Regions from separate parts of the Homo sapiens genome. Here region 1 is linked to region 2. The links come from fine-mapping of genetic effects on gene expression. A gene starts in region 2. The other region holds a variant in brackets. All regions are shown on one strand. Distances are from middle to middle.

What was found.
Region 1: its variant is fine-mapped to the expression of RTN4RL1-AS1 in anterior cingulate cortex (GTEx, PIP 0.99).

The regions. Positions count from the first base shown.
Region 1 is chr17:1,996,477-1,998,976 of GRCh38, reverse strand. All of the region lies in intron 1 of RTN4RL1 (reticulon 4 receptor like 1), which reads left to right. Among named protein-coding and RNA genes, the nearest start is that of RTN4RL1-AS1, 20 kb to the left of the region's middle. The variant T/G (reference allele first, on the strand shown) is at 1,270.
Region 2 is chr17:2,016,270-2,018,769 of GRCh38, reverse strand. It overlaps RTN4RL1-AS1 (RTN4RL1 antisense RNA 1), which reads right to left and starts at 1,054. Exons shown (of 2, transcript NR_135642.1): 1 at 663-1,054. All of the region lies in intron 1 of RTN4RL1 (reticulon 4 receptor like 1), which reads left to right. The region is part of intron 1 of LOC105371486 (a long non-coding RNA gene); the gene reads left to right. RefSeq lists an enhancer at 348-457.

The DNA of each region.
Region 1 (2,500 bases), 20 kb after region 2:
AAGGGGGAGCAGCTCTTCAGTTGTGCACAGCCGACTGGAACCCTCGGTGAGGGCAGGGCCTGTGTCTGTTCTGCGCGTGGGATGAGCGCGTAGAGAATAAAGGGGCTCCGGGGTCGTCTTCGGCTGCCGGGAAAGTGCGTCAAACCCGCGTCCCCAGCGTTTTTAGGGCCCTCGCAGAGCCCCACCCCCACCCCCACCCCGGGGTCCCCGTGCGCGCGAGGCCGCCCCTGTCCCCGTCTGTGCTGCGAGGCCCGTGAGGGGAGCGGGGCCCGGGCGCTCCGGCAGCGCCAGCTTGGGCAGGAAAGCGCCGCGGCGACCTCGGAGGCCACATCCCGGCGAGCCCAGGAGGAGGCGAGCCGGCCCCACGTCCCCCACCCTCCGCCTCAGCGTTCACGTCTGTAAAGTGGGGGCAGGAAAGCCGCCGGGGATCCGGCAGGGACCTGCGCGCTGGGCAGCGGTGGCCGGCCCGGGGGCAGCCGCGGGGAGGGGAGGCCCGACCCGAGCGGGGCGCGTGGGGTGCGCAGATCCCCGGCCGGCGGCTCCCGCGAGAGGGAACGGATCCCAGCGCGGCCGCGGCTCCCCGCGCGGTAACCCCGATCTCTCAGCGCGGGCCCCCGGCTCTAGAGCGAGAAGACCCTCCCGGGCGGGGCCGGTGCCCAAAGGGCGCGCTCGGCTCGGGTCGGCCTGCGGGAGGCCTTGGGGCGCCGGGTCTGGGCACCGCCCTCGCCCTGCAGCTCCGGATCAATGCGACAGCCCTCCCCGCCCCTCCCCCAAAGGCCAAACAAAACATAGTAAATATTTAATCCGGGCCAGGGAGCCAAGGAGGCCTCCCCGCCCCCTCCGCCGCCGTCTGGCTCCCCTGCCAGCCCCGGCAGCTCTCCCTCGGTAATGAGGCCGGGAGAGGCCGGGATCGATCGCGGCCTGGGGCGGAGGCGGGGGTGGGGGTGGGGCGCCCGGCACCCTGAGGGGGACATCGCTGCCCGCCCCCAGGCCCCAGACCCAGGAGCCCAACCGAAGGCACCTGCGCCCACGCTTTCCCCAGAAGGCCTGCGAGGAGCGCGCCGGCCCCTGCCGGCCTGCCCTTGTCACCTCCCTTCTCAGAGGGCGTCAGCTGGGGTCGGGGGTCTGCGGGGATGCAGGCCCGAGTAGGAGGGCTGTGAAGGGGGCGGGGACCTCCCAGCCCCGGCTCAGGCCTGACCTCCGAGTCCTAGTGGTTTAAAGCCAGCAGGGGCTTGGATGAGGCCTGGGTGGGGCAGGGGCAGCTAGGGG[T/G]GCCCTAGAGGGAGGCTGGCGAGGTGTTCCTGTACCTTGGAGTAGGATACCTTAGTGTGCTGGTGGTGCTCCCGATTTCCTGGGCATTGCCTGGGGAATACCTAGAGGGGACGGTGACATCCTCACTGCTCATTCATGCAGTGGTTTATGATTGAGCACCTACTATGGGCCAGTCATACTTGTCGACTACCAGACAGACAAGTTCAGACCTGCAGAGGGATCGCATTCCAGAGAGCGACAGTTAATAAGTAAACACATGCGATGATTTCAGATCGTGGTTGGACTCAGTGTAGAGAATAAAACTGTTAATGTGATATTGTACTTGGCCGGGAGAGGAGCCACATCAGCTGGGCTGGTCCTGGAGCTGGCTGAGGACGATGGGTTGGGGAAAAAGCATCCCAGACAAAGTCTGTAGGAAGTGCAAAGGCCCAGAGGCAGGAAATAATTTGCGAGGAAGGCCAGTGAGGTTGATTGTCGTGAGTGAAGAAGCAGGTAGTGAGCGGCAGATCCCTGAAGGTCTCGTGGGCCACGGAGGAGTTTGGATTTTGTTCTAAGTGCAGTGTGAATGCATTAGAGGTTTTAAGCAAAGGAATGACATGATCTGATTTACATTTTTAAAAGCCTCTGCTGGCTGCAGTGTGGAGAATGGAAGATAGTTAAGGGGGAAGGCGGGGAGGCCAGGTTGGTTGCGGGGGATGGTGCAGTGGTGTACACAAGGGTGGCTGGTCCCCTGCCTGGCTTGGGTTATGACTGAAGTGGCCATTTACACATCTGCAGCTGGCAGGGCCCCCAGCAACCAGGAATAGCCTGCTCCTGGGTTCTTTGTGCACAGAGTCCCAGCTGGCCTGGGCAGAGGCTGGGGTGGCCCCCGTCCTGTCTCCGAGACCCAGACTCCACAGTGGGCAGCCCAGGAAGGTTTTTTTTAGGAGCATTAGAAAATGTTGACATGTTTTTTGAAACAATTTCAGATCTGATATCTCCGCCAGATTGAGTTTGTAACCAGCTTTATTGTTTAAGCCTGCTGGGATTTCATCAAAGGCGTCTGCTGTTTACCCAGAACCATTTCATTGGAGAAAACAGCAAACAGACCTGCATTTCTATCTGATTTCACTTTTTCCCTTTTCTCATGAATTTAAGAGCTTGTGAAAAGCAAGGCTGATAAGGCAAGGCAGCGAGGATCACATCCGGAAGAGGGGGGTCACAAGGATCTCAGCTGAGGTTTATTAATAGA
Region 2 (2,500 bases):
CGTCTGTGCTCATTCCTCCGTGTCAGATGAGGAAACTGAGGCATAGCTAGCTGGAGTCCCTTTCCCTGGGCCACCCAGCCGGCGCACTGCTGAGTCAGGATGCAGCCCCCGCTCTGTCTGTCAAGCCCACCGTCTCCCTTGCCCTCTGGACCTCTGTGCTCCACTGTCTCACGTGCCCATCTGTCTTGATTTCTCTGACATTTGTTTTGTGGGGCGCTGGGCGCTGCTGATTCATTTCTGGCTTCTCGCAGAGCTTGCTGGTGGTTCCTATGCACTCCCCTCTGCGGTTCCTCAGGAGCCTCTCTGGCTGGGATCTGGGACTCCTGGGGCCTGAGCTGCTGTCTCATATGTCCTCTCCTACTCCCTCTCCCCCGGTGTCTGGAAGACACAGTCCTCACCTCTGTCTCCTGCCCTGGTTTCTTCCTTGGGGACAGAGATGGGACAGTGGGCCAGGAACCCTCCTGCCTGCTTTCACGCCCCTGAGGAGGGCCCAGGGCCATGGATTATTGGGGGGCTGTGCTCTGCTTGGGATCTCAGCCCTCCCCATGGTTTGCTCTCCCTGGCTTCCCTCCAGGGTGACCTGATGGACTTGCTAGCACAGCCCCGGAACACACTGGCTCCACCACCTATACCTGCCCCTCTTGCCTTGTAGTGCTCCCTACCTCCTGGGGGGCCTTCCCGCAGCCCAGCCCTAGCCTGCCAGGCAGGATGGCAGCTGCAGGGCTCAGCTGTCCTCCAGAAAGGGCTTCTCCTGTCCCCTTCCAGCCACGGTTGAGTCCCAGAGAGGTCAGTTCTCCCCGTGATTCTTTAGGAAAAGAAAGAAGATGAAACAAGGCAGAGAGTCTAGCTGATCTTAGGGTGCAGGAGCGTGGAATCCCGCTTCAGAGTGGAGGCCTCCTCCGCTGTGGTGAGGCTCGTGCTTCCGAACCTGTGATCACTGTCTAACCAGTCAGCGAAGCGTGGAAACGAAACTGCAAACAGCCCCTGCTATCTGATTCAGGAGAGTCGCTCTGGAGACCTCTGTGCTGGCACAGCAAAAGAGTTGGTACCATAGTGTGTGTGCGTGTGTGTGTGTGTGTGTGTGTGTATGTACAGAAACACACCTGGCAAAGCATGCAACAGGCTCCCTGTAGTGTGTGTGGCAGAGGTCACTGTTGCAGAGCAGGACACCCTAGTGCACCAGAGCCTCTGCTGGCACCCACACCATTGGTCCACTGGCAGGGCTCGGTGCCGTGGCACGATGGTGAGCCAGTCAGTGGGGGCAGGGGCTCCCAGGAGTGGGCAGGCCAGCGCTGTGTGTGCCACATGTCAGGAACAACACTTGCTGAGTGGGTGTGTGGCTCGCCCTCACAGGGGGTGGGTGGGCACGACTCGTGACATGTCTGCCAGGGGACAGACCACTGCAGCCCCCAGCGATGGGCCACTTGGCAGCTCACTGAGTTGATTCCAGAGGGTAGTGGCATCATGGTGACAACTACGTGAGCAAGGGTCTTTCCCAAATCAGGACAAAAGCTGGGCTCCCAACTTTCAGCCCACTGAGGTGGTAGAAAGTTTGCTTCTGCCTCCAAAATCATCCCCACAGGATTTGCTATCTCTTTCTGGGCACCAGGACCAGCACGCAGTGAAGGGGGCCTTTACATATGCTTATGTTGAGAGATTCATGAGGCCCTGGGGGGAAATTGGCATTCTTCTGACCATGATTTATTTATACGGCGATAGGATGATGGGGATATGGAGGCTAAGGTGACTCCATGAGTGAGAAGCGCACAAGGCAAGAAGCCTTGCTCTGCATTTGACATTTAGTGGGGTGACTCCTACCAGGGAGCTGCTTTTCCTTTTAGAAGGTTTTGCCTTTAATGTTCTATTCATGGGCTTGTCTGAGCAAGCTGGGAGAAGGAAGGAGCACGTGTGGAGGTGGGCCTGGGGTCTACAGCTGGCCAGCCTCAGGGGAGGCAGGGCCGAGGGAGGTCACTTGATGGCCAGTGAGGGGCACCTGGGCAGGCCGGACGCTGGGGACAATGGCTATGCTCTGGCGCTGCAGCCCGGCCTCCCGCCTGCCCGCCTGCTGCCGCCTGTCGCTGGCATGTGCCGCATGCCACACGCTGCGTCTCTCTGTCTCTCATCACACGCTGCCAGACTCCGTCTCTCACCGCAGCCCTGTATGCAACCCTGGCTTTGCCCTTGTCACGGCCCTTTCCTTTCCAGGAACTGTGGGGCTGTGGAAAGACCAACGGAGCTGGCACCCTGGGGCTGTGTTCGGTCAGCTCTGGGGCGGACTCAGTAGAACCCCAGACATGTCTCCTCATCTCTGGGCCTCAGTTTACCCATCTGTAATATGACTAGATCAATGGTCTTTCAAAGTTTTTTTTTGTTTTTTGTTTTTGTTTTTGAGATGGAGTCTTGCTGTGTCACCCAGGCTGGAGTGCAGTGGTGTGATCTTGGCTCACTGCAAATTCTGCCTCCTGGGTTCAAGTGATTCTCCTGCCTCAGCCTCCCAAGT